4 linked regions of the Homo sapiens genome follow. The protein of the gene in region 1 purifies or fractionates together with the protein of each later gene. This does not show direct contact. Each region holds a gene or a part of one and is shown in the gene's direction. Other genes may lie near its edges.

The links.
Region 2: the proteins of ANKRD29 (region 1) and ADD2 purify together in Homo sapiens (affinity purification with mass spectrometry; 3 studies listed by BioGRID and IntAct, with this or other methods). This does not show direct contact.
Region 3: the proteins of ANKRD29 (region 1) and ADD3 purify together in Homo sapiens (affinity purification with mass spectrometry; 4 studies listed by BioGRID and IntAct, with this or other methods). This does not show direct contact.
Region 4: the proteins of ANKRD29 (region 1) and ADD1 purify together in Homo sapiens (affinity purification with mass spectrometry; 4 studies listed by BioGRID and IntAct, with this or other methods). This does not show direct contact.

The regions. Positions count from the first base shown.
Region 1 is NC_000018.10:23,659,896-23,666,964, reverse strand, and holds the start of ANKRD29 (ankyrin repeat domain-containing protein 29), read left to right. Parts: upstream 1-4,053; 5' UTR 4,054-4,234; coding exon 4,235-4,255; intron 4,256-7,069.
Region 2 is NC_000002.12:70,702,183-70,709,206, reverse strand, and holds part of ADD2 (beta-adducin), read left to right. Parts: intron 1-2,764; coding exon of another isoform or gene 2,765-2,798; coding exon 2,799-2,981; intron 2,982-4,747; coding exon 4,748-4,886; intron 4,887-7,024. UniProt on the Homo sapiens protein: Membrane-cytoskeleton-associated protein that promotes the assembly of the spectrin-actin network. Binds to the erythrocyte membrane receptor SLC2A1/GLUT1 and may therefore provide a link between the spectrin cytoskeleton to the plasma membrane.
Region 3 is NC_000010.11:110,122,982-110,130,005, forward strand, and holds part of ADD3 (gamma-adducin), read left to right. Parts: intron 1-1,035; coding exon 1,036-1,293; intron 1,294-2,844; coding exon 2,845-2,964; intron 2,965-3,435; coding exon 3,436-3,522; intron 3,523-7,024. UniProt on the Homo sapiens protein: Membrane-cytoskeleton-associated protein that promotes the assembly of the spectrin-actin network. Plays a role in actin filament capping. Binds to calmodulin.
Region 4 is NC_000004.12:2,839,258-2,846,848, forward strand, and holds the start of ADD1 (alpha-adducin), read left to right. Parts: upstream 1-4,586; 5' UTR 4,587-4,767; intron 4,768-4,892; exon of another isoform or gene 4,893-5,577; intron 5,578-7,591. UniProt on the Homo sapiens protein: Membrane-cytoskeleton-associated protein that promotes the assembly of the spectrin-actin network. Binds to calmodulin.

The DNA.
Region 1 (7,069 bases):
TGGGTAGATTACTCCAAGCTGTGTCTGCTACAGTCCCCACTGCAAGAAGCCTCATCTAGGGTAAATTCCAATAGGTTAGGAGAGACGGAGCTAACTAGCTGGGAGATGTGAGGTGGAAGCTGGGCATAGTGGCATGCACCTGTAATCCCAGCACTTTGGGAAGCTGACAGGGAGGATCACTTGAGCCTATGACTTAATGACCAGCTTGGGCAATATAGTGATGCCCCATCTCTAAAAAATAAAATTAAATAAAAATTAAAAATTAAACAAGGGCTGGGCATGGTGGCTCATGCCTGTAATCCCAGCACTTTGGGAGGCTGAGGTGGGAGGATGGCTTGAGGCCAGGAGTTCAAGACCAGCTTGAACAACATAGCGAGATCCTATCTGTAAAAAAATGTTTTTAAAAATTAGACGGTATAGTGGCATGTGCCTGTAGTCCTAGCTACTCAGAAGGCAGAGGCATTAGGATTGCTTGAGCCCAGGAATTCCAGGCTGCAGTGAGCTGTGATCCTGCCACTGCACTCCAGCCTGGGTGACAGAGACCCTATCCTTATAAAAAATAAATAGATACAAAAATTTTAAAAGATGTGGGATGGGGAAGTAGACAGAGAATAAAGACAGAAAAGATGTCCAGCATGAACTCTTAGTTGGATGAAGGAGCCTGATTACAAAAAGGGTGTTAGAAAGCTCAGTAGGCTGGGCGCAGTGGCTCATGCCTGTAATCCCAGCACTTTGGGAGGCAGAGGCTGGCAGATCACGAGGTCAAGAGTTTGAGACCAGCCTGGCCAACATGGTGAAACCCCGTCTCTACTAAGAATACAAAAATTAGCCGGGTTTGGTGGCCTGTGCCTGTAATCCCTGCTACTCAGGAGGCTGAGGCAGGTGAATCGCTTGAACCCGGGAGGTGGAGGTTGCAGTGAGCCAAGATCATGCCACTGCACTCCAGCCTGGGTAACAGACCAAGACTCCGTCTTGAAAAAAAGAAAGAAAGAAAAAAGAAAAAAAAAAGAAAGCTCAGTAGACCAGATTGACCTACTTCTCAATTCTGTCGAGGGCAAATCCTGTTGGACCATCAACTGGGACAGTGCAAAATAGAGGCCAAACACATCAAGGTCTGTGCTGGTGTGAACAGAAGGTGACAATGACTATGGACTCATTTGAGATCAACACAGATGTCTGTGCATCTGAGTAATGCATGTCTGTGGATAAGAGTGGGCCTTCTGACTTGGTAGATTTGGATAACACAACCCCCTGACTCTTTTACTAATTCAATGATGAATAAGTTTTGACCATCTACCATGCCTCCAGCCGTAAATTAGCCCCTGGGGAAAATAAAAGATACATAAGACACAGGGCCTGGCCTTGAAGAATTTCAACTCTGCTGAAGAAATCAAAAGCAACAGAAGTAGAACTGAGAGCAATACCAGACCCTGTGGAATCAGGGTTGAGGGATGTGGTGTAGAGCAGAACCATGGCAAGAGCTCAGCAAAGTTGGGAGGAAGATGACTGAGAACCAGGGTGTAGGAAGAGGAACTTGAGCTGGGGGTAACACCCTGGGTAGGTTGGGATTTGGCAGACAAAAGAGAGGAGATGAAAGAGAGCCGTAGTGGGAAGAGAGCAGTGATAAGATTTTGGAGCTAGACAAACGCCTAGCTCTATCACTTATTAGCAAATTATTCCATTTTCTCAGAATTTTACTTTTTTCATCTATGGAATAGGTATAATACCTACCTCATAAAATGTTTATAAGGAAAGCACCTTGTACCTAGAAAACACTCAAAATATTAGTTTTTTCCTTTATCCCTTTTGTTTGACAGGATGACAAGGATGGAGAGGCTCTGTTTGGGTAGTGAGAAGATGTTTGGATAAGAAAACTGGGCCGTGCAGATTAAATCTTGTATTAGGTCCAGTGGGTCACTATTAAAGTTTGGAGTGGACCATTTTAGAAAGAATTGCCTGTTGTGACCATGAGAGCTTTGTTCCATTTCAGAGCTGTTTATATGAAGATGAGTTTAACCGCGTGTGTCAGACGGTGTTAGGCACGTTCTTTCCAGAGACTGACAAGAATCCCATCAGCACCCTGGCCAGAGAAAAGCAGCTTTGAGCTCAAGTGTAACGGAAAGGAAACAGGCTTTGGAGCTAGACAAACACCTAGCCCTATCACTTATTAGCAAATTACTCCAATCTCTCAGAATCTTAGTTTTTTCATCCGTGGAATGGGTTAATACTCACCCCATAAAATGTTTATAAGGAAAGCACCTTGTACCTAGAAAACACTCAAAATATTAGTTCTTTCCTTTCTCCCTTTTATTTATCAAAACTATTAAAGCAGACCAGGCGCGGTGGCTCACGTTTGTAATCCTAGCACCTTGGGAGGCCGAACCAGGTGGATCACCTGAGGTCAGTAGTTCGAGACCAGCCTGGCCAACATGGCGAAACCCTGTCTCTACTAAAAATACAAAAATTAGCTGGGCACGGTGACAGGAGCCTATAATACCAGCTACTCGAGAGGCTGAGGCAGGAGAATTGCTTGAACCCGGGGGGTGGAGGTTGCAGTGAGCCAGGATCATGCCACTTCACTTCAGCCTGGGCAAAAGAGCGAAACTCCATCTGAGAAGAAAAAACAAACAAACAAACAAAAAACTATTAAAGCAAAACCTCTGATGCTTGATTTTTATATAATAACGTTGTGTGGCAACTTAAAAACTGTGTCATTTATAGGCACTCAAGGCAAGGAAAATGTTTAGAGTCCTTATTTTTAAAATTGGAATTTTCTATAAAAGTTCAGAATGTTTTTAATTTAAAGTTGTTTTAAGCACAAAGTAATACAATTTATCCATGAAGGTTAAACATTTTAATTTTTATCATTAACTTTTATTTGTAATTGTTTTCTACCTTTTAAATTAAATATTCGTTACAAATTTAATTGAGAAGAGGGAAGGAGGGGGAGAATGAATGAGTGGATTCTTATAGTTTGAGGGGGTAAGACCTCCATTTTTATACTATTTTTTTGTTTTGTTTTTATTTTTATTTTTGAGGCAGAGTCTTGCTCTGTTGCCCAGGCTGGAGTGCAGTGACCGAATCTTGGCTCACTGCAGCCTCAACCTCCCAGGTTCAAGCGATCCTCCCACCTCAGCCTCCCGAGTAGCTGGGACTACAGGTGCGCACCACCACGCCTGGCTAATTTTTGTATTTTTAGTAGAGATAGAGTTTTGCCATGTTGGCCAGTCTGATCTCGAACTCCTGGACTCAAGTGATCTGCCCGCCTTTGGCCTCCCAAAGAGTTGGGATTATAGGCGTGAGCCACTATGCCTGGGCTACTTTTTTACTTTCACTTTTCTAAAATGCTCTCAAAGAGCTGTTGTTGCCGTTTATACTTAAAACTCCCAGTTTTACTTCGCCCAAACCAATCCTGGGCAGGCAGCAGGAGTGGACACACATACTGCAATACTCCAGGGCTGCAGCATCAGACCCAGAGGAGGAGGGAACTGCTGGATTAATAACGCGGAGGAGGAGGAGGGGTATGAGTCTATTCCAAAATTGGCCTTTGCCCTTCAAAGAGGAAAAGACCACTTATTGTTTGTGCAATCAAAAGGTTTGTTTCCTAGATATTTTCCCCAGGAGAAAAAAGTTTCCCAGGAAACCGAGAAAGAAATTATAACGAAAATAGCTATTGGATGAATTTTTTCCTCAAGCTTCATTTTTACATCATTATAATATTTGTGCTGTAATGAAGGTTGGGAGTCCTCTGGGGCAGACCAGTCTATTTGGGAGGATATGTATGGAGTTTGTGTGTGAGTACATGCGGGTGAGTGGGCGTGAGTGTGGAAAGTATGTGTGTGGAACCTCTGTGTGTGTGGAATGTGGAGCGTATGCACAATGTGTGTGGAGTTTGGAGTGTGTGTGTGGACGAGTGAGTGTGGAAGTGTGGACGTGTGTGGAAAGTGCACAGTGCGTGCGGAGTTTGGGGTGTTTGTGCACGCGCGTGTGTGGCAGGTCCTGGAGCGCGTCCACGCGACACCCCATGTGTAGTGTGCGCGCGCGCGCGCCCCCGCGCCGCCCCTTCGGCCCGGCCCTGTGTGCGGCGGCTGCTGCCGGGCCGGGCGGCGGGAGCGCGCGGCGTCGGAGGCCGCCCCTCTGCGGAACGCCGAGAGCCCCGGGAGAGTGAAGGGCCGGGGAGGACAAGGCGCCCCGGGCCCAAAGCGCGCCGGCTCCCGCTCGGGCGGCCGCGGACATGTGCAGGATGTCCTTCAAGGTGAGCGACCGGGACTCCGGGGTCAGGGCTGGGGCCGGGCTCGGGCGGCCGGGCCCGCGGGGTCGGGTGGGGTGGGATGGGGTGGGATGGGGTGGGCGCTGCCCGCTGCCCGCCGCCTCCTCCTTCCTCTCTCCTCCAGCTGCGGGCGAGGCCCGGGAGGAAGCGGCGGGGCTGGGTGCGCCCTGTGGGTTTGCGGTTTGCCTGCCTGCCCTGCCTGAGAGGCTTCGCACTCATGGCTGTGGATCGGCTGAGTCTGTGCCCGGCGACGGGGCGGCGGGGACTGTCGCCGGGTAACAGGTCGGGGGCGGGTAAGAAGCCTGGGGTCAGCGCTGTCCTGCAGCAGAAGGAGTCCCCGACCCTGACCCTCTGGGTCCTCATGCAGGAGTACCAGCTGCACCCACGGATGCCTCCTCCCCGGAGGGGTGGCCAGCACCCAGGGAGGCTTCAGGGTCCAAAGGTGTCTTGTCTCAAAAGAGTTGATTAAAGTCATTCCATCTAATCCCCACATTTTAGGATGAAAGAGGTTGATTTGCCTCGATTGAAAGGGTTTAATAAAAATAGCAGTTAAAATGTATTAAACAGTTCAAATGTGCCTGACTCTGAACCAAGGACATGGTGTGTATGGTCTCAACCCTGGGGGAGACCTGTGGGAGGTGCTCTTCGTGGCTCTTTTTTTTTTTTTTTTCAAATGAGAAAACTAAGATATAGAGAAATTAACTCACCCACGGTTTTGCAGCCAATAAGTTATGGTGTTAAGACTGAAACCCAAGTGTGTCTGACTCCTAAGCCACTGTAATCCCGTTGCCGACAATAGCTCATGTAAGCAGAGGAGTGACATGGCGAGATGTGCATGTTGCAAAGATCTCTGGCTAGGTTTGGAGAAGAGGGTTGGAGCTGGAAGATGTTGTCATCTTTTTAAGAAATGGTACTGGACCAGTGCATAGGTGGTGAGAATGGAACGAAGCAGACGAATGTGAATGACTTTAAAGTTTTTTTTCCTGAGACGGAGTTTTGCTCTTGTTGCCCAGGCTGGAGTGCAATGGTGTGATCTCAGCTCACTGCAACTTCCGCCTCCCGGGTTCAAGCTATTTCTCCTTCCTTACCCTCCAGAGTAGCTGGGATTACAGGCGTGCGCCACCATGCCCAGCTAATTTTTTCGTATTTTTAGTAGAGACGGGGTTCTGCCATGTTGGCGAGGCTGGTCTCGAACTCCTGACCTCAGGTGATCCACCCTCCTTGGCCTCCCAAAGTGCTGGGGTTAAAGGCGTGAGCCACTACGCCCGGCCGACTTTAAAAGTTTTAAATCGGCATAATTCAGTAGGGAAGGCAAGAGAGATAAAGATAAAACGTTTGGTTTGGGATAAATTTTGAGGATAGATGGGAATCCAAGCAGAGATGTTGATTAGACAGATATACTCTCCTCGATCCCAGGAGGCAAGTCTGGGCAGCAGCTAGAGATGAGATTTAGGAGTCAGCAGTGTTAAGTAGGCACCCATGGGAATGAACATGATTGCCCAGTGGAACCATATAAAGGTGGAAAATAAGAGGACTGAGGACAAAATCTTGAAGAAGATTTGAGAAAGAGCAGCCAGAGACGAATGAGAAAACTCAGAAGCATGTGCTGTCACTTACACCAAGCATCTCTAATCTTTCAACAAAGATGAAGAGGACCTTGATGTTTATTAATGCCACAGGGAAATCAAATAAACAAAGAATTGAAAAGTCCATTGGATTTAGTGACGGAATAGGCACTGGTGACCTTGCCAAGAGCACTTTCAGTGGTGTTAGGATCAGGAGCCAGATTGCAATAGCTTGAAAGAGAGTGGGTAGAATCCACAAGTGTGGAGAACTCTTTCAAGAAATTCTGCAAGAAACAGATTTTTGTTAGTTTGTTTGTTTGTTTGGACAAAGTCTTGCTCTTGTCACCCAGGCTAGAGTGCAGTGGCGCAATCTTGGCTCACTGCAACCTCTGCCTCTCGGGTTCAAGCGATTCTCCTGGCTCAGCCTCCTGAGTAGCTGGGATTACAGGTGCCTGACACCAAGCCCAGCTAATTTTTTGTAATTTTAGTAGAGACGGGGTTTCGCCATGTTGGCCAGCCTGGTCTCGAACTCCTGACCTCACGTGATCGCCCGCCTCAGCCTCCCAAAGTGCTGGGATTAGAGGCATGAGCCACGGCACCCAACCCAGAGATTCTTTTTAAAAGGCAGTGGCTGCAGCAAGGATCTGGAATTGACCAAGTGTTTGTTTGCTTTAAAATGGTAGAGACTTGAGCATCTTTAAATGATGATAGGCACTTCAACAATAAAAAGACAAATAAAGCCTAATTTTAAAGTGGACATATGAATAGACATTTCTCCCAAGAAGTTTACAAATGGCCCGTAAGCACCTGAAAAGATGCTTAACATTATTAGCCATGGTCTTGGAAATGCAAATACAAAACTGTAATGAGATACCACTTCATACCCGCTAGGATGGCTTTAATCAGCAAGACAATGACGAATGTTGGCAAGGATGTGGAGAAATTGAATCTGCATGCATTGCTGGTAGGAGTATGAAGTGATGCAGTCATTTTTATTTATTTATTTTATTTATTTTTTTGAGACAGAGTCTCACTCTGTCAGCCAGGCTGGAGTGCAATGGCATGATCTCAGCTCACTGCAACTTCTGCCTCCCGGGCTCAAGCAATTCTCCTGCCTCAGCCCCCCGAGTAGCTGGGATTACAGGCATGTGCCACCACGCCCGGCTAATTTTTGCATTTTTAGTAGAGACGGGGTTTCACCATGTTGGCCAGGCTGGTCTTGAACTCCTGACCT
Region 2 (7,024 bases), on another chromosome or scaffold:
GGGCTTTCATAAGAAGATGACTAACTAGTGGAATGATTAAGATCATAGGTCCTGGTTTGGCAGCTTTGCAGAAGTGGGCCATGGTGGCATTTGGAGCACTCCCACTGCCTGTTAAAAGAAAAATTTTAGATGAATTAAACTTAACAGAGTTTGAGCAAAGCATGATTCAGGAACTTGGGAGCCCTCAGAATCAGAATGGTTTCTGAGTGACTCTGAGGCTGCCACATGATTGGATACATTTATGGACAGAAAAAGGAAAGTGACCTACAGAAAATGGAAGTGAGATACAGAAATGACTGGATTGGTTACAGCTTTGTATTTGCTTTATTGGAATAGTGTTTGAATAGTTGGCTACCTGTGATTGGTGGAAGCTCAGCTGCTGTGGTTGGCTGAGACTCAGCTACTTGTCACAAGAGTAGGTTACAGTCTATTACACATCAAGTTGGGTTACAGTTTATTATACGTGGAAAAGCCCTTAGGCCACACTTAAAATATGTAAGGAGGCAGCTTTAGGCCAAACTTAATGTAACATGTCCCAGGCCAAGTGTATGATAGCAGATGGTGGTTTGAACGAGGGGAGGGGCCTAGACAGCTATGGGACTTGGCCTGTGATGTGAGAGTCAGATTATGTGAGGTTTTGTGCCATCTTATGTCAGACTTGCTAGAAATGGCCAACACCTGGAATGGATGCCTTCCATTACATGTTGCAACCATTAACATCTAAACTATGGATATTTCAACCGAGGCTGCTCACTAGGGATTAGGGAGCTTTTGAAAAATCCTGATGTCCAGGTCATACCTCAGACTAATTATATTAGAATATCTGGCATCAGTACTTTTTAAAGTTCCCAGGTGATGCTATTGTGCACCCAAGGTTGAGAACCACTGCTCTAGGCTGAGGGCTCAGGCCATCAGCTGACCCTTGAGGAACTCTGTCCATGCGCCTTCCCTTGAACGAACTGTTTGCCTTTCCCCTAGAGGAAGAATGCAAACAAGAACAACAGGAAACCATCTGTGTATTCTGGGCTGATGGGATGGCCTTCCACTGTCCTCCAAGCTTATCTATGGCATCATTCTCCCCTCACCCCACCCAGAGAGACTGCAAAGGTAGTGTGTGGAGTTCTGGTAGAATGTGGAAGAAGAGGTTACAGGCAGCTCAGGGACAACAAGAATATGCTCTACTGGACATCAGCAAAGCCTCCTTTGTAATGAGCTTCTGACCAGAATCAAGGGTAGGCTGGGGCCAACAGGACTGCTGGAGCAAGGCCGGAGGGAGCCAGGACTGGCCAGCCACAGGCAAAGGGCAGATCAGGACCTGGGAGGCCAGGAGTCTTCTCCCAAAGAACAAGAGAGCATTCCATCTCCTCATGGAATGGGAGCCCATGGAGGTAAAGCAAGGGAGTGGCAGGTTATGGATGAGAACCCAGGTGTCCTGGTCCCTTGTAATGCTCTTTTATTTGTATCTTCACATATATGTTAAAAAGCTAATTATTGTTCAGCCAAAGTACATGCTGCCTTCTGCTGAGAAGAGAATCAGCCAGCAGGGAGAAGGCCAACGCTCTGTAAGGCCACCCTGGGTGTTGAAGGGGCAGAGCACCGATTTGAAGGCCTTGCAGTGCCGACACAGGAAAGGAGACGGGCTTCGCAAATTCCCACTGCCGGGAAGTGAAGCCCGGAACTGCAGGCTTACTCTTCAGAAGGGCTCCAAGATAGCAACAGAAAACATTTCTTCATTCATCATTCACACATTTTAAAAAGTATTCTTGATTAGAAAAAATCCACAGGTTTCCCCCAGCTTGACTTTCCAGAGGCTGTCGTGGTCCTTGCTCCAGGGAGCAGGTTTACACGCAGCACGTGGGGCTCTGGCAGCCGGGCAGCATGGCACCCTGCAAACCATATTTAGTTGTTGTTTCTCAACATGAGTTGAATGGGATTGGAGAGAAAATAATTTTCCATTAATAAAGTTGCACACCTCTTTTTAAACTTGGAATAAGAATCTGATTCTGCATTAAAACAAGTTTCAGAAAAACAGATTCACCAATAAATTCCTTTCCAGGGGCCAGAGCGAAGTTTAAGTTGTAAAGAAAAGCATTGGGCAAAGCGCTTCCCACGTTTCAGTAGTTCCTGTGCTCTTTTAGTAGTAGTCTTAGTAGGCCCTGTTTAATAGTAGTATTCTTTTGTGAATTTCCCACCATAATTTTTTTTTCTTTTTAGTTCTGTGATACGTGTGCAGGATGTGCAGGTTTGTTACATAGGTAAATGTGTGCCATGGTGGTTTGCTGCGCCTATCAACCCATTACCTAGGTGTTAAGCCCAGCATGCATTAGCTATTTCCACCATAATTTTTGAGGGGCCTTATTAGAGGGTTTCCATTTTAGATGAAGTACTGATTTCCAGTAAGTAGCTTACCACTGCATAGGTGTGCATCACAGAAATGCTCAACAAGGTCTGCAGGTCATGTTTCCATTCGGGGAACTCTCTACTCCAAGCCAAGTGTGACCATTTAAGGGCTGGCTAGTTGGGGAAGGGAGTGGACACCTGAACCCATGTTTTTACTTAGTCTCATGGCACAGCAGCGCCCCTATAGATGGGTATATGGGGCCGCTGCTGGCGTCCTGCCCTCCTCCCCAGGCTCTGCCTCTACCATCCTAGGAACAGCCGTACCCCACTGAGAATCCAACTGAACCTAGCCCTGTGCTCTGAGAAACGTGTACCCCGATGGGGAGCACCAACCTGACCGCATACCCTCTCCCCTTCTCTGTAGAGTTCCAGGAGCGAATTGCAAACCCACCGGGAAAATGAGCGAAGAGACGGTCCCCGAGGCTGCCTCGCCGCCGCCCCCGCAGGGGCAGCCTTACTTTGACCGCTTCTCAGAGGACGACCCCGAGTACATGCGCCTTCGCAACCGGGCGGCGGACCTGCGGCAGGACTTCAACCTGATGGAGCAGAAGAAGCGCGTCACCATGATCCTGCAGAGTCCCGTGAGTGGGGCTGACCCGGGCGGGAGAGGGCGCAGGGGGCGCTGGCTCTTCAGGACGTGTACCCACCCGAAAGATGAGTAACTCCTCTTTCCCTTGCTCAGGGTCAGTAGAAATGTAAGCCCACTGAGCAAGACGGATCTGGTCACCTGGGGCCTTGACACTCTCCCTTGTAACTGGTGGATGGCAGAACCTGGCTTGTGTGTGGCAGTTTGGCTTGGTGCGGGGGGAGGTGGGACGGAGACAGGAGTCCCCCTCAGTTTCCTGTGCCCCTTCGGAGCCTCAGTTCCCAGTCTTCCCTCCTCACCAAAAGCTATGACAGTGAACGGACAAATCCATGTAAACTAGAGACCAGCAGGGTGCCAGGAGGAGGGCTTGGGGCTCCCTTTACTGAACACCACAAAGTAAGAACTTTCTGTCGGGACAAATGAAGCTTTGACATGAATGGGATGGGGCTGAGGAGAGCCTGGAAGCCCCAGGAGGTGGGCAGAGTGGAGGGCTCAGCCGGGCTGTGGGATGGGGTGTGGGAAGGGAAGGCAAGTCGGGATCACTCACATCCCTCCTTACTTGGGGCCAGTTGGTTCCTGCCTGGCATGGACACAGCTCCTCCTTGAGGCAGGTAGTGCCTTGAGAAGGCCGAAGGGTGGGCCCTGTGGACCACTGAAGGCAGAGGGAGATCACTGTGGTGGAGGCAAGAGGGGTCTGACTGAGGAAGAGCTTGGGGGGCCTCAGGAATCAGCCCATGATCCTAAGGATCGGGAAGCCCAGGGACAGAGTTGGCATCTCCAATTGCTTGCCAGGATGGGCTCGAGATGGGAGCCGCTCTGCCTTGGCCTTCTGGGCTCCAGAGAGCCAGGGCCTGTGCAGGGGCTGTGTGAGACCCTGGCTGGGAGCCATGGTGCATACTCAGGCCACACAGAGCAGCTCCAGGGAATGGGCCGAGGTCCAATATCTGTGCCCAGATATTGTGTTGGGGAGCTGGGAGGAATATGGCAGATGCTGAAAGCATTGGGGTGAAGAGCCTCTGGGAAAACCCCCAGAGTGTGACTAGGAGGGGTGGCAAGGGGGTTAGGAGAGGCGGCAGAGTTAGCACCAGCCCAGATTTCAGGGCTCAGGCAGTAAATAGGGGTTGGAGGAGGGCCTGCTTCCTTCTTCCCTTTTACAGGTTGGCCAACACACCTAAGTGGCCCCCCATTTCCTCCTGAGTGTTTTCTCCTGCCACCTGGTGGGCAGGATTCCTTGCTTATGGCTTCATGGTCTGAAAAGCCAGGCTTAGAGTTGGACATCAGGAGTGGAAGTGACCTCAGAGGTCATCAAATCTTCCTGTTCTTCCTCCTACCCTTTCATTAAGCACATGAGGAAACTGAAGCCCGAAAGAATCACAGGCATCGCTAATGGAGAGGGATGGTGGCTCTCTCCATTCAGTTCTGCCTAAAAAAATGTCCTTCATTACTAAAGTGAAGTCCTACCATGTCTGATGGTGGGGAGGGGTCTTGGCCCTCATTTAGACACAGAAAGGACCTGGAATCTGGATTACTGCCCACAGGGCAAGGGAACACAAGATCCATTCCCAGCATTTCTTTGTTGCTTCCCATACAGCAATTCCTGAGGTCCTAGTGGAACTGCTCAGTGTCCCCTGTAGCTGGGGACCCTGAGCATGGCCCTGACCTAGCTGACCCAGGGGCAAGGGGTGGGCACTTGGAAGAGCTCATTGTTGGGCAGCTGTGTGAGAGGCTGTGGGGGGACAAGCACCTCGGGGCCTGCTTCAGTCTTTCAGGGAGGAGCTGGAAGGCCTCATCCAGGAGCAGATGAAGAAGGGGAACAACTCCTCCAACATCTGGGCCCTGCGACAGATCGCGGACTTCATGGCCAGCACCTCCCACGCAGTCTTCCCGACATCTTCCATGAGTATGTGGTGTCTGGGGAGCTGCCAGGAGCAGAGGTGGAGGGGAGGGTGGGGTGGGGAAGAGAGGGAGGAGCAGCAAGAAGCATCTGGTTGCCAGGCTATGGAGTAAGCAGCCCATTGTGTTATCAGGCCTTGGGGAGCTCAGCAGCAGCCAGAGAGGTACCTGGCTCTGCTTCTGATGTTGCTGCAAATTAAACGTCCACAGAAAAATTACCCCAATGCCAGGAATAAGAGGGTGGAGGTGACTTCAGTGGACGGGAAGAGACCACTGAAGCCTGTGTTTCCATGCCCCACTAGACAGGCCAACCTGACTCCACAGATGAGGGCTGAGAGGAGCCAGCCAGGGCTATGCAGGAAGCCACCCTCCTGGGCTGTTATGCTCTGCCCATAACGTTTAAAACACAAGCATCAAAAAATAACTCCCCCTCAATAAGATTATTACAGGATTATGGCTGAAAACTGTGAAAATAACCAAGAAAGGGAAGCAGAAATCATTCTACTGTGTTCTTAAAGCCCTCATATTACTATTCTTAATATTTTGGTGAACATATATCCTTCCAGTCCTTTTTTTCTTAACATATATAGATTATGCAAACACAAATGTAATCACATAAAATATGGTTCTATAATATAATTTTTGGTGGATACATGCTATTTAATAAATTTCCCATTGTTGGACTTTTAGGTTATTTCCAACTTTTTCTGTTAGGAACAATGCAATAAACATCCTTGTAAATAAACCTGAGATTATATCCGTGATTATTTTCTTAAGATAAATTACTAGTAGAATTGCTGAATTGAAGTACATGCATGCATGTTTTAAAGACTTTAATGCAGAATGGCAGATTACATCCTTTCTCCAAATGGATCCAATTTACGTTCCCAACAGTAATGCGGTAGAGTGCCCATTTCCTCTACCCTGGTCCATAGTGTATACTACCATTTGTTTCATCCTCCTGATTCAGTAGGTGACAAATAATACTTTATTTGTGTTTTAATGTGCATTTGTTTGACTACTGATGAGGTTGGATATATTAATGTATTTTCACATACATATTGGACATGATTTTCTTCCTTTCTCTCTCTCTTTCTCTTTCTCTCTTTCTCTTTCTTTCGTTTTCTTTTCTTCTTCCTTTCCTTTCCTTTTTCTTTTCTTTCTTTTCTTTTCTTCTTCCTTTCCTTTTTCTTTTCTTTCCTTTCTTTCACGCAGAATCTCACTCTGTTGCCCAGGCTAGAGTGTAGTGGTGCAATCTCAGCCCACTGCAACCTTCCAGGCTCAAGCAATCCTCCCACTTCAGCCTGCCAAGTAGCTGGGACCACGGGCACGCACCACATGCCTGGCTAATTTTTGTATTTTTTGTGGAGACAGGGTTTCACCATGTTGCCCAGGCTGGTTTGGCACTTCTGGGTTCAAGTGATCCACCCACCCCGGTCTCCCAAAGTGTTAGCATTACAGACGTGAGCCACCGTGCCCGCCCCTGACTTTCTTTTTATAGTAAATTGCCTTTTTACATCCTTTGCCTATTTTCCTATTAGTGTATTATTTTCTTATAGATTTTTACATTTTTATAAAGTAAAGCTGTTTCTCTATTATCTGTCAAATATATTGCTTTTTTTTTTTCCAGTTTCTCCTTTGTCTTTTAGTTTTGTCCATGGCATTTTTTTTGTCTTGTAGAATTCTTTAGTTTCTGTGTAGCGGAAACCATTGTAATTTTCCTTTGTGTGTTCTGCTTTTGATTGCATGCTTAGAAATACCTTTCCCATGTTTCATCATCTGATGGAACAAATACCCTTAATTATGCATTTGTCAATTTTCCTCAACTGTTTGTACAAGTTTATTCTTTACAATAACTTTAGGCCAGGCACAATGGTTCATGCCTGTAATCCCAGCACTTTGGGAGGCCAAAGCAGGTGGATCACCTGAGGTCAGGAGTTTGAGACCAGCCCGGCCAACATGGTGACACCCTGTCTCTACTAAAAATATAAAAATTAGCCAGGCATGGTGTTGCATGCCTGTAATCCCAGCTACTTGGGAGGCTGAGGTGGGAGAATTGTTTGAACCCTAGAGGTGGAGGTTGCAGTGAGCTGAGATTGCACCACTGCACTCCAGTCTGAGTGACAGAGCAAGATTCCATCTCAA
Region 3 (7,024 bases), on another chromosome or scaffold:
CTTTCTGTGCCTGGTTTATTTTATTTAATACAATGTCCTCTAGGTTCATCCATGTTGTCACATTTGACAGAATTTCTTTTTTAAAGCTGAATAGTATTCCATTATGTTGTATATACCACATTTATATCCCATCCATCAATGGACACTTAGGATGATTCCATATCTTGGCTATTGTGAATAATGGTGTACCTAACATGAGAGTACAGATACCTCTTTGACATACTGAGTACATTCCCTTTGGATATATATCTGGTAGTGAGACTGTTGGGTGATATGGTAGTTTTATTTTTAATTGTATGAGGAACCTCCATACTGTTTTCCACAATGGCTATACTAATTTACATTGCTACCAACAGTGTGCAAAGGGTCCCTTTCTCCCTACATTCTAACACTTGTTGTCTTTCATCTTTTTTATAATAGCGATTCTAACAGGACATGCCATCTCGTGCTTTAATTTGCATTTTCTTGATTAGTGATGTTTTAATACACTTGTTGACCATTTGTATGTCTTCTTTTGAGAAATGTTTATTCAGATCCTTTGCCTATTTTTTAATTGGGTTCTTCTCTTGTTATTTTTTGAGTCCCCTATATATTTTGGATAGTAACCCCTTAAAAGATGTATGGTTTGGCAAATGTTATTTTAGATTTTACCCTCTTCTGTGAAGGCTCAGAAGGCTGACTGCCTTCAGACCCAGGAACAGAGACTTAAATGAGCACTGAGATTTGCTTCCCCAGAACAGTTTTATAGATAGAAAAGCACTTCTGGTCAGCAACTTAGAACTGTTCGTTTGTCGGGAACAGTTGTGTGAGTGGAAATTGCAATATCAGCTGTTATCAGCTCTAACTAGGTCTTGAAATTTGCATAATTTCAGCTCCAGTGTTACATGAAAGTTATGTGGTGTTTGGAAGGATGCCTTTTTCTTTGTTTTTTAGCAAAGGAGTCTTTTAAATCATTTGTATACAAAAGGAATTAGGATCCAAATGCTGTTATTGATACAGGTTTGATGCTTCAAATGTGGCTTTTCCCTCCCTTAGGGGTATAGAACAGGCTATGCTTACAGGCATCCTCTCATTCGAGAGAAGCCTAGGCACAAGAGTGATGTGGAAATCCCAGCAACTGTGACTGCTTTTTCCTTTGAAGACGATACAGTGCCACTCTCTCCTCTCAAATACATGGCACAGAGGCAACAGCGTGAAAAAACAAGATGGCTGAACTCACCAAATACTTACATGAAAGTGAATGTGCCTGAGGAGTCTCGGAACGGAGAAACCAGTCCCCGAACCAAAATCACGGTATGCCAGTATTTTATGTAGTTTGCCTTTACTAAATATTTTGCCTAGTTACTCAAGAATTGAATGTTCTATATTGAAAATATTTGGAAAGTAAAATAATATTAAAAATATTACTGTCACTTATCTGGCTTTAACTTTGTGCAAGACACTCTTCTAAGTGCCATACACGAATTTTCTCATTTAACTCTCCTAATATGAATGATGCTGTTTTTCTATTTTATAGATGAGAAAACCAAGGCAAGAAGGGTTAATTAATCATGTTTTAATGGTAAACTCGGGATTTGCATGAAGACAGTCTGACTCTTGAGCCCAGTTCTTGTCCACTACATGATACTGCTTTGTAGTTTCTATTAAACTACACCAGTAGTTTAATTCACCAGTGAATTAAAACTGTAAAAGTTATCAACTCCTAATTGTACCAAAGCTGCATGAATCACTGCACATAGCTACCCTTAGGCAAGATCTTGTAGGTAGAGAAATGGGTTATTTTATCTTTTTCAGAATTTTGCATTAGATTTGGTTTGGTTTGGTTTTGGAGTGCATACCACCAAACATTCTCTAGGTCAGTCTTGTCCAGTCCATGGCCCAGGATGGCTTTGGATGCAGCTCAACACAAATTTGTAAACTTTATTAAAACATTATGAGAATTTTTTGTGATTTTGTTAAACTAATCAGCTATCGTTAGTGTTGGTGTATTTTATATGTGGCCCAAGACAGTTCTTCCAATGTGGCCCAGGGAAGTCAAAAGATTGGACACCACAGTTCTAGATATTCAGAATTAGTTCATCTTATATAAACTAATGGCATTCAATATGAAAATACCTAGGCATCAAAATGTCTTTTCTGTAGTCTATAAGATTTCTTGCCTCCCAGTAAAAGAACATAATTAAACTCATTGGTTTCTCAGAATTCATTTTGTTTACAGAGATTGATGGTCAGCCATCATTAATCTTGATCGAGATTCGCTTTCTTTAAGGATTATAATATGGGGTAAATGAGAAGAATTATGTAAGCTCCTTCCAACCCCGTGGTTCTATTTTGCTATTATATACCAGATTATCCCCATTATAAAATGCCGATTAGGGCTTGGCCTTTTCTGTCAGCCAAAAATAAAAAGTGAAGTCTGATAAACTAAAATCTTAAGATATTTCTTAAGTTTTTTTTTTTTTTGATTACTCCTTTGCCATCTTCATCTGACTGCTGTCTTCAGTGCAGAAGACAAAACACTGAATGTGAGTGAATGTGAGATCATGCTCTCTGTGCTTGAAGTAGTTTCAGCATCATATTTTCACTTGACACAAGGAGAAAGTTTAATTAGCAGTATAATTGAATATTTATGTGAATCGTAATGGCATTTATTTTTTAAGTAAATGTTGATTTTGAGCCTTTTCTAACTAGTATGAGATGAAACTAATTCACCACTAAGATACTGCTTAGTGAAATTATTTAAACATTGGCAATGCCCCTCTTGAGACTATAAGCAGTTATCTAACAATCTACTAATATTTTCTTAACACAAAGCTTCATTTTAGAAAATTTTTGATTCTTTAGTGGATGAAAGCAGAAGACTCATCTAAAGTTAGTGGTGGAACACCTATCAAAATTGAAGATCCAAATCAGTTTGTTCCTTTAAACACAAACCCGAATGAGGTACTAGAAAAGAGAAATAAGGTAAGACATGGTCTTCTATAGCCAGGGGAGACATTTTAATTGCTTTATGTTTAAATCACCAGTGGTTGAATCTGGTTAATGCCAAACTTAGAAGTTTGAATACAGAAGAATTTGGAATTTAATTCAGTATAATTTTAGCTTATATTGAATGCCTCCAGCTCTGTGCTAGTAATTGGTGAACAGGCTACATGGGGAAGATGTATTGAACATTTTTCTGCGTTAGAGAACCCTGCTATTAGGGGGAAAATGCAGTTCTCTAACAACCTAAGACGAAAGGAAATAACTTGCCATAAAGAGCAGAGGAGACTAATATGAGTTGTTAGGATGGTAAAAGAGGTCTTTATGGAGGTGGGAATTGAAGAGACTCTCACTCTGGAAATGTCAAGTAGTAAGCTTTTATGAAAAGATAAAGCAAAGGTCATCTGCATAGTTGCCCTCAAGAACTTTATATTGAATTGTTTTTCAATTCAGATTCGGGAACAAAATCGATATGACTTGAAAACAGCAGGACCACAATCTCAGTTGCTTGCTGGAATTGTTGTGGATAAGCCACCTTCTGTAAGTTTATGAAGTAGTATGATCTTTGTTTTTTATTTACCACATTAATTTCATTGATTTTTAAATATGAATATTTATTTTTACTAAGGTTAATATAAGCACAAGTTAAAAAGTCAACTCACAAGATTTAAAATGTCACCCACAATTCCCAGTTTCCAGGTGCAGCAACTTTCTGTTCTTTTCATTGCTTCTAATGTTTACTTTGGTGTTTCTGGTTAGTTAGTTGAGATGAGGTCTCACTCTGTTGCCCAGGATAGTCGTGAACACCTGATCTCAGGTGATCCTCCAGCCTTGACCTCCTGAAGTATTGGGATTACAGGTATAAACCACTGCTCCTCGTCCTCCTTTGATGTTTCTAAAGAGCATCTTCTGCTTTTTCTTGGTCTATCAGTTTTAGACCTTGACTATTTTTCATCAAATCTGTGTTATCCGTTATAAGAAGTACCATTGTTTTATATGTCACTAAAAGAGAAAAAACACTGCCAATTATAATTGTTCCCAATTTCAGAGATGGAAAAAGTTCATCTTAGAATTAATGAAATATTTTTGAAAGATGGGGATTTAGCCTGTTTATACAGTGCTTCCCTTTTTCCCTCTCCCCATTCTCCCAGTAAGGATACATCACAGTTTTTGTTTTTTGTTTTTTGTTTTTTTCTGTTAGATCAGCTTTCGTTATTTATATTACTACATGTTTGCTGCTAAGCCAGGTAGTATTTCCTTTCTTACATAAGTCACCCCTCCCTACTCTCACCTTGCCTTTTTTTCATTGGCTTATTATTTGGGGTACATTGGCTTAGTTCTTCCCGAACTTTTTAAAAGAATTATAAAGTCCCGGCTGGGTGCAGTGGCTCACGCCTGTAATCCCAGCACTTTGGGAGGCCGAGGCGGGCAGATCACGAGGTCAAGAGATCAAGACCATCCTGGCCAACATGGTGAAACCCCATCTCTACTGAAAATACAAAAATTAGCTGTGCGTGGTGGCGTGCACCTGTAGTCCCAGCTACTCAGGAGGCTGAGGCAGGAGAATCACTCGAACCCGGGAGGCAGAGGTTGCAGTGAGCCAAGATCATGCCACTGTACTCCAGCCTGGTGACAGAGCGAGACTCCGTCTCAAAAAATAAGAATAACATAAAATCTGTCCTAATATTATTTTCCACAGGGTGAAAGTCAACAGGTAATCTCTCTGTTCCAGCCCCCCTTCATTCTGATCCAAATCTAAATTGGTTGCTCTCAGGCCAGCTGCACAGGTTCATCTGGAGGATTCCTGTGCTGCTGATCTATATTGTATTCCGTTTCCTGTATCTTGTGTCTTCTGCTTTCTTGATTTCCTCCTTTACTGTAGAACGCACCCTCTAATAGCTTTCCGAGAAAAGGATACATAGGTGGTAACAGTCTGAAATGCCTTTATTCTATCTTCAAATGTGCATATAATGGATATAGAATAGTTTAGAAATAATTTTCCCCTGAAATAAGAAAAGCATCATTCTGTTCCCTATTTTATTGTTGAAGTAGGAAGGCATTGGAATTCCTGAACCTTTGTTTAGGATTTTTTTTTTTTTTTTTTTTTTGCTTTTAGACCCTTTCTGCATCCCTGCTGTTCTGAAATTTTATGATTGTGTGCTGATCTCTTTTTAGTCTTTTTTCTAAGTAATTAGTAACCCTTTTCAATCTCCAGAGTCATATCCTTCAGTTCTGGAAGTTTTTTAAAAGTGTTTCTTCAAGAGTGTTTTCTTCCCATTTCTTTTTCTGTCAGTATATTATGTTAGTTTGGATGTTGGGCCTCTTTGAGCCTCTGATTTTTTTCTTTTCTCTCCTACTTGCCATCTCTTTATCTTTGTATCCTACTTTCTGGGAGAATGTTTTCTAACCCTTTTAATTTTTTATTTTGATGTTAACTTTTTTAATTTATTTTATTTTATTTATTTTTTTTGAGATGGAGTCTCGCACTGTTGCCCAGGCTAGAGTGCAGTGGCGCGATCTTGGCTCACTGCAAGCTCCGCCTTCCTGGGTGCACGCCATTCTCTGCCTCAGCCTCCCAAGTAGCTGGGACTACAGGCGCCTGTCACCGTGCCCGACTAATTTTTTTTGTATTTTTAGTAGAGACAGGGTTTCACCGCGTTAGCCAGGATGGTTTCAATCTCCTGACCTCGTGATCTGCCCGCCTTGGCCTCCCAAAGTGCTGGGATTACAGGCGTGAGCCACCACGCCCAGCCAACTTTTTTATTTTTAATAAGAGTTCTTATTCCCTGAATGTTCCTTTTTAATAACATCCTGATCTTTACACTTTCTCTTATTGCTCTAAGGGTATCAATTTTAAATTTTCTTCATTTGCCTTTGTTGTCTTTGTCTATTCTGAGTTGTTCCGTATGTCTGTTTATATGGAAGAATGAGACATTAAAGCATATCAGAAGCTCTGGGTATACACAGAGCTCGGGGATTGGTGGGCTTCACTGTAGGGTGATTGGATGTGGACCAGGTTGTTTCTCTGGGGAATCCCCAAACATTATTCTCTGTAATTCTTTTATCTGGGACTATTTAGTTTATCTGGAAAAGAACTCCAGTCTCCTGCCAGTTTCCAACCATCATTCTAGGAGCCTGCAACTGTATTTTGTGTCCCCTAGTTAGTTTTTCTTTCTTTCTTTCTTTCTTTTTTTTTTTTTTTTGAGACGGAGTTTTGTTCTTGTTGCCCAGGCTGGAGCGCAATGGCGTGACCTCAGCTCACGGCAACCTCCGCCTCCCGGGTTCAAGCCATTCTCCTGCCTCAGCCTCCTGAGTAGCTGGGATTACAGGCATGCACCACCATGCCCGGCTAATTTTGTATTTTTAGTAGAGGCAGGGTTTCTCCATGTTGGTCAGGCTAGTCTCGAACTCTGGACCTCAGGTGATCTGCTCGCCTTGGCCTTCCAAAGTGCTGGGATTACAGGTGTGAGCCACCGCGCCCAGCCTAGTTTTTCTTTCTCAAGCCTCTGATCTTCTGCAGAGATGAGAGAGAGGGAAATGCTTGGCTCTGTGGAATAGGGAAGGGAACCTGGGAATCTGTTTCCTATTCAGACTTTGAACATGTTCCTCTATTTTCACCTTTTCCTTACCACCACCTTCTATGGTACCTATTGCCTCTAGTTTATGGGCCTTACCAGACCTCTTCAGGGCAAATAAGCATGCTTCTCATTTGCATCCTTTTTTTCAGGACTGAGGCTTCAACTTTCTCAGCTCTGCTACCTGCTGTTCCACTTGCATTCCAGCTTCCAAAAATATGTTAACATTTCTCATCCTTTGTTGTTTCATCTCACATTCTTTTGTCCTTAAGGGTGTTTTGTTTTGTTTTTTTCTATTCCTTTACTATCATTTTAGTGGGGTTTTGGGAGGGATGAAAAATAAATACATGGGTTCCATATGCCAACTGCAACTGAAATTCTCATTATTTCCTTTCCTGGAGAAAACAGCTACAAGCTTATTTTCGTAACAGATTTAAAGAACTACTTTTGGTACAGTTTCATTTCTG
Region 4 (7,591 bases), on another chromosome or scaffold:
AGTCAGGCTCAGGTGATTCTCTCACCTCAGCCTCCCAAGTAGCTGGGACCACAGGCCCACACCACCAAGCCCAGCTAATTTTTTGTATTTTTAAGTAGAGACGGGTTTCATCATGTTATGCAGGCTGCTCTCAAACTCTTGAGCTCAAGCGATCTGCTGGCCTCAGCCTCCCAAAGTTGGGATTATAGGCGTGAGCTACCAGATTTTTTCTTATTAATCTAATAATTCTTTGTATAGTCTTGATATTATCCATAATGTGTATTGCAAATATCTTCTCTAACTCTGGCTTGACTGTTTATGGTGTCCTTTTTTTTTGGGGGGGGTTTTTTGAGACAAGGTCTTGCTCTGTCACCCAGGCTGGAGTGTTATGGCACAATCTTGGCTTATTGCAGCCTCAATTCCTAGGCTTAAACAGTCCTCCCACCTCAGCCTCCTGAGTAGCCGGAACTACAGTCACGCACTTCCATGTCCAGATAATTTTTTTTTTTTTTTTAGAGATAGGATCTTACTATGCCCCAGCTGGTCTCAAACTCCTAGACTCAATGAGCCTCCCATCTTGACCTCCCAAAGTGCTGGGAGTACAGGCATGAGCCACTGTGCATGCCAGTTCTTATTTTTAATGCAGTTGAATTGATCAGTGTTTTCATTTTGGTTAGTGCTTTTTGTGGCTTAAGAAATTCTTTCCAGGCTGGGTACAGTGGCTCACACCTGTAATGCCAGCACTTTGGGGGCAGAGGCAGGAGGATTACTTGAGCTCAGGAGTTTGAGACCAACCTGGACAACATGGCGAAACACCATCTCTACAAAAAATACAAAAATTAGCTGGACATGGTGGTGCGTGCCTGTAGTCCCAGCTACTCAGGTGGCTGGGGTGAGAGGATTGCTTGAGCCCAGAAGGTCAAGGCTGCAGTGAGCTGTGATTGTGCCACTGCACTTCAGCCTGTGAGACAGAGTGAGACCCTATCTCAAAAAAAACCAAAAAAAAAAAAAAAAAAAAGAAAACCACTGAAATTATTTCCACTCCAAGGTCATGAAGATAGTCTCTTAGATTATATTCTGAAATCCTTATAAATGTAAATTTCATATTTAGGCCTTTAATTCACCTAGATTTGGTTTTTTGCATATGGTGTGAGGTAAGGATTCACTTTCATTTTTTTCTCTCCATAGGGTTACACACCTGTCCTATCATTGTTTGTAATCTAACTTTCTGCGCCCATCTGCAATGCCACCTCTGTCATATGTCCACATATGACATATGTAGATCTGTTGTTGGATTCTTTCCTCTGTTCCATTAGTCTGTCTGTTCTTGTGCCAATATCAAGCTGTCTTCATTATTATCAATTATGTATTGAGATCTGATAAAGTAAGTCTTTTCCACCTTATTTTTCTTCTTTGAGAGTGTCTTGACTATTCTGGCTCTTTGTATTTTCATGTAAGGTTTTTCTCCCATATAAGTTTTAAAATCAGCTTGTCAATTCCAACAACAATGATGCACTTGATAGTTTGGGAATTTATTATAGCTATCAATCAGTTTTGGGAAAATTGACGTCTTTACAATATTGAGTTTTCTGATTCATGAACATGGTTTACCTCTCTTTCCATTTGGGTCTTCTTTAAGGTTTACCAATAGGATTTTATATTTTTGTCCATTGTGGTCTTGCTTATCTTAAGTTTGATTTGTAAATATTTTATGTTTCTTTTAGTCTATTGTAAATTGTGTATTTTTAATTTCATTTTTTTTTTTGTTAATAGCATATAAAACACACCTTGTCTTTTAACTGGAGCATTTTGTCCATTGTGTATTTAATGTAATTAAATCTACCATCTTATTTTATGCTACATATTGTCTCACTTGTGTTTGTGTTTTCTTCCTCCCTTTTCTCTCCTTTTCCCCTTCTTTGAGATTGAGCAACTTAAAACAAATCATTTCATTTCCCCCCTTCTCCTAGTTAGAAAGTTAAACACTCTCTATTCTTACTGAAGTCTAGAGTTAACTAATAAATACTTTTATCCTCCTCCTGGACAACATAAGGACCTCAGGTGACTTTCATTGGTCTCCCTCATTACTTGATATTATTGTTGTATATATCTAATTCTAACTCAATGTATTTTAAAACTCTCACCTAAGACCGTATTTGTTTTTTTGTTTTTTTTTTTTTGGAGGCAGAGTCTCTGTCACCCAGGCTGGAGTGCAGTGGCGCCATCTTGGCTCATTGCAACCTCCATCTCCTGGGTTCAAGCAATTCTTGTGCCTCAGCCTCCTGAGTAGCTGGAATTACAGGTGCCTGCCACCAGACCCAGCTAATTTCTTGTATTTTTAGTAGAGACAGTGTTCTGCCATGTTGTCCATGTTGATCTCTTAACTCCTGAGCTCAGGCAATCCTCCCGCCTTGGCCTCCCAAATTGCTAGGATTACAGGCAAGAGCCACCACGCCTGGACCTTTTTACTTTTTTGTAGTTGGAAAAGGAAGGAATATTTTAATAGCTTTAAAATTGTTTTATTATGATAAAATTTTCATATTATAAAGTTTATCATTTTAATTATTTTAAAGTGTACAGTTCTGTGGCTTTGCGAATATTCATATTATTGTTCAGTCATCACCACCATCCATCTCCAGAACTTTTTCATCACCCCAAGCTTAAACTCTGTACCCATTAAACACTAAATCCCCATTCCTCCAGCCCTTTGCAACCACCATTCTACCTCCTGTCTCTCTGAATTTGACTACTCTAGACACCTCATACAAGTGGAATCATACATTTATCTTTTTGTGATTGGGTTATTTCACATAGCATGTCTTCAGTGTTCATCCATGTTGTAGCATGCGTCAGAATTTCCTTTCTTTTGGCCAGGCATCGTGGTTTATGGGTTTATGCCTGTAATCCCAGCACTTTGGGAGGCTGAGTTTGGATTTGGGAAGATTGCTTGAGCCTAGGAGTTTGAGACCAGCCCTGGCAACATAGTGAGATCCCGTCTCTACAAAAAATAACAAAAATTAGCCAGGCATGTTGGCACGTGCTGGTAGTCCCAGCTACTTGGGAGGCTGAGGCAGGAGGATCCCTTGAGCCTAGGAGGTCAAGGCTGCAGTGAGCCATGGTTGCAACACTGCACTGCAGCCTGGGCGACAGAGACCCTGACTCCAAAAAAAAAAAAAAAAAAAAAAAAAAGGCACAAAACCCCAATAAATAGAATTTCCTTCTCTGCATAATGCTGCTATGAACATGGTACAAATAGCTGTTTTCATTTCTTTGGGGTATATATCCAGAAGTGGAATTGCTGGATTATGTGGTAATTATGTTTAATTTTTTGAGGAACCACTCTACGGTTTTCCACAGCAGCCACACCATTTTACATTCCCGTCAGCGATGCACAAAGGGTTCCAATTTCTCCGCATCTTTGCCAACACTTATTTTCTTTTTTTCCTCTTCTTCCTCCTTCTCCCCCCTTGAAACTTTTTGTTTTCTTCTCGTTTTTGTAGAGAACAGGGTCTCCTTATGTTGTCCAGTCAAGTCTGCCAACTCCTGGGCTCAGGCTATCCTCCTGTTTCTGCCTCCCTAAGTGCTGGGATTTTAGGCTGAAGCCACTGCGCCCAACTCCCTGCTTCTTCAACTGCCATCCTAATGAATGTTAAGTGGTATCCCACAGTGGTTTTGATTTGCGTTTCCCTAGTGATTAACTATGGGAAGCAGAAGTGAATGAGACAGAATTGTGATCTTGTCAGAAAAATCGTCTTGGAAAAGCCAACGTCCAACAGAAATGGTTAGAACAGGGGTCGCTGGCTTCCATCCAGACAGTATCCCTGACCCTTGTTGGGGCAATGTCACAGAGGCTCCTGCTGAGCAGGGAGGTCTGGATTCCACACTCTTCTGCCACTGCCCAGCTCTGGACCTAAGCTTTCTATGGGTGTCAAGAGGACAAGCAGCCGTGCCCATTTGTCTCGCTGCTTGTTTTTTTGGGTGTCAGATGCGCCAGCAGGAGGGACAGTGTGCGGGAAGGTGCTGGTCTGAGGCTGGTCCTGCCAAAGCCCCGCAGGCTCACTCCCTGGTCGTGCGGAGGTGGCTGGTGCTCGCTGGTCTCCTCAGCACCCGCAGGCCGGGCCCGGGGGCCAGGCAGTTGTCCTCTGTGGAGCCTTATCGGGGCCCACAGGCCCTGCTGCCTTGACCCCACCCGGGCCCCAAAACTCGGCCTGGGGACTGCACAAGGCGGGGCTACGCGGGGCAGGGCCCGTCTGCTGGGGGAGTGCGCTGGGCGGCGGCGGGAGGGCAGGGTCCCTGGGCTCCGACAGCCCCTCCGGCGGAGGTCAATCACAATGAAACCGTGTCCAGCGGACCCGGCAGGGGCTCGCCGCAGTCTACCTGGCCACCGTGAAGCCATGACCTGGCGCCCGAAGCTGCCGGCCGGGGTGTACTCCGCGCGGGACCCTGGGCCTCCGCAGGCCCCGGCGGGGTCGCCCCGAGGCGGGCCTGGCGAGTCCAATCGCCCTGCCCGCAGGGGACCCGCCCCTCATGGGTCCCGCCAATCGCAGGGTACGTTGCTCGGCAGTGCTGCGCGGCTTGGCCTATGGGACGGCGCGTTGTTGGGCTGCAGCGCCGCAGGCCGCACCCAGGTCGGGCGGTGGGGGCGAGCGGAGGGGCTGAGGGGCGGAGAGGCCTGGCGGGCCGCTGCTGCGGGCCAGGGGACGGGGGCGGAGCCGGAGCCGGAGCCGACGGGCGGTGGCCGCACTGGGACCCCGGAATCCCGCGCGCTGCCCACGATTCGCTTCTGAGGTGAGGCTAGCTAGCGGGGGCGGCGGGGGCCCGGTTCGGGCTGAGGCGGCGGCGGGGGCGCGGGGAACTGGGCCGCGGTTGCGGCGGGCGGGGGCCGCGGGGCCTGCGGCGGCCCGGGCAGCCTCGGGGGCGGGGAGGCCGCTGCGGCGCCGAGGGCGTCTTGGAGGGGTCCCCGCGGGGCCTTCGGCCTGGGCCGAGCCGGGGAGCGAGGGCGCCGCAGATCTTTCATCGGGATAGGACCCCGGGGACTAGGCTTTTCCCGGGCCGCTCGTTCCTGGCCGGCTTGTGGGCTGCAGGGGTGGGGGCGGAGGAGGACGACCCTGGCTGGACGCTGGTCAGCATCCTGCTTGTGAGACCGGTTCCGCGGTCCGCAGCGCTGGTGGCTGCAAGGTTTGTGTACGGACGCATCTGTCGGCTCTCGTATTTAAAAACGACGGCTTCTGCCAAAAGAGAAAAGCCATATCTGCCGACGGACGCTCGAGAGATAATCGTGGAACTTTATCAGCGATGGGGCTGTTGGTCACCTTTGCCCTCCCTCTCTTTTCTTTTTTCTTAATCTTTTATTTTCGTTTTTTGGGAGATGTCAGAGGGCCTTTCCCTGTTAGGATGACTTTTATCTTTGCTCTTGTAATGGCTCAAGATAGTTGGGAGGTAATTTGCATTCACTTTATGCATACCCACCTTGAAAAACGTATTTTGGTTCGCCTGAAACTGTTGTTGGTTTGAGCATAATTTATGTTTAGAAAGACAAAAAGCAATTGTCATATCTCCAAAGACCAAAGACATAGCTGATAGCTGTATGCATTACTGGTAAGTTAAAGAAAGATTTTTTGTGTGAAAAATTGACTGAGATCTTAATGGGGATAGGAAATAGAATGCTGATAGGTCGACTGTGTCTATGAGTAGAGGCGCCTAGTGAAAACAAGCTTGGAGTGGATGAGTAGGAGTTCAACAGGCACCAGAGAGAGGAGGGCATTTCAGGCAGAGGGTGTGAATTGTATGAAAGTGAGTTTGTAAACTTTGGAGCCTTGAATGGACAAAGGCCCGCGATGATACCTTTTTTTTTTGAGACGGAGTCTCGCTCTGTCGCCAGGCTGGAGTACAGTGGCGCGATCTCCAGTCACTGCAATCTCCGCCTCCCAGGTTCAAGCAATTCTCCTACCTCAGCCTCCCGAGTAGCTGGGACTACAGGCGCGCGCCACCACGCCCAGCTAATTTTTGTATTTTTAGTAGAGACGGGGTTTCACCATGTTGGCCAGGATGGTCTCAGTCTCTTGACCTCGTGATCCGTCCGCCTAGGCCTCCAAAAGTGCTGGGATTACAGGCGTGAGCCACCGCGCCTGGCCTACGTTAAAATTTTAATATACTCCTTTGATTTTGACAGTGGAGAAAACTAGAATAGTAAAGTTGTCTTTTCAGGAAGTGGATGATTTGGGCAGTCAAAACTGCTTTTCAGAGTTTCGATGTGGTTTACAATGGTATGGACAGCTGGTATGATTTGTTAGTTTTCTACTTGTGGTGTCTTTAGGTTTTAAAGTTTCGGAGAGTCGCTGAGTGATGTGAGTCTAAACTCTAGCCAGTCCCCGAATTGTGAGATAGTTTTCCTTCTAAAATATACTTCGTACAAGCTGGTCATTTTTCCCCTTAATTCTTTTGATGTTATCTGATATACTGAGAAGGTTTTGTTTGGTGTTCAGTTTTGTGTTACTGATTTTGCCATAAAAACTGTTTATTTACATGATTTTTAGTTTTTAGTTCTTATAGTCTTTGAATTGAATAAGAAAAGTAAATACTGAAATGCTTTGAAAGATAACAAAATATTTACTTATTGCTTGAAACTTAGAGTTAGATTGACTGCCCTTCCTTTCTTTCCTTCCATGTTTACCTCTTAACATATACACATATGTAGAGAGAATAGTATAAACCCCTTTTCTCAACCAGTTTCAACAGTCAATCTTGCTTCATCATATCCCCGCAGTCCTAGATATCCTTTAACCGTTAAATAGTTCAATATGTATATCTTAAAGACTTAAACAAAAGGTAAACATGAGTACCACTATCACAGAAAATGAATAATTCCTTAATACTTTCAAATATCCAGCCAGTGTTAAAATTGTCAGAATTCTCATTTTTTTTCTTAACAATTTCAATCGATCCACATGCTATCTATACAGTGTGACTCATTTTAATTGATAGTTTCCCCTCCATATTTAGTTTTCTCTTGTAATTTATTTATGGATGAAACCTGGTAGTTTGTCATGTGGAGTTATGCACAGTCTCAATTTTACTCTGTGGCATAGTTTCACAGAATTTACTGAAAACTGGTGGTTAGATCTAAAGGTATGATCAGATTCAGCTTTACTTTTGTCAAGCAAACTTCTTAGGTAAGTAGGCAGAAATGATTAGTAGTCTTTGTTCGCAGCCCTTGATTGTCAGTGCCTACAGTCATTTCAGCAAGCATTGAATATATTGATATTTGAATTCTATAACTTCTTTTATTAAATAGAATATTTTTATAAAGATAATTTTTCATGCCTCCACTATTTGGTTATCTTGAGGTATCTCTTACAGAAAAGGGAGGATAAATGCTTAATTCTTCTCCATTATTTACTAGGTTTCACATAATGAATTGTTTCGCTAATATCCTTCAAAAGTAGCCAATGAAGCTGGGCATGCTAGGATGGGCCTGTAATCGTAGCTGCTCCTGAGGCTAAGATGGTACGAACCTGTGAGCCTGGGAGGTCGAGGCTACAGTGAGCCATGATCACTTCACTGCACTACTCTGTCTCTTTAAAAAAAAAAAAAAAAAAAAGCCGAGCGTGGT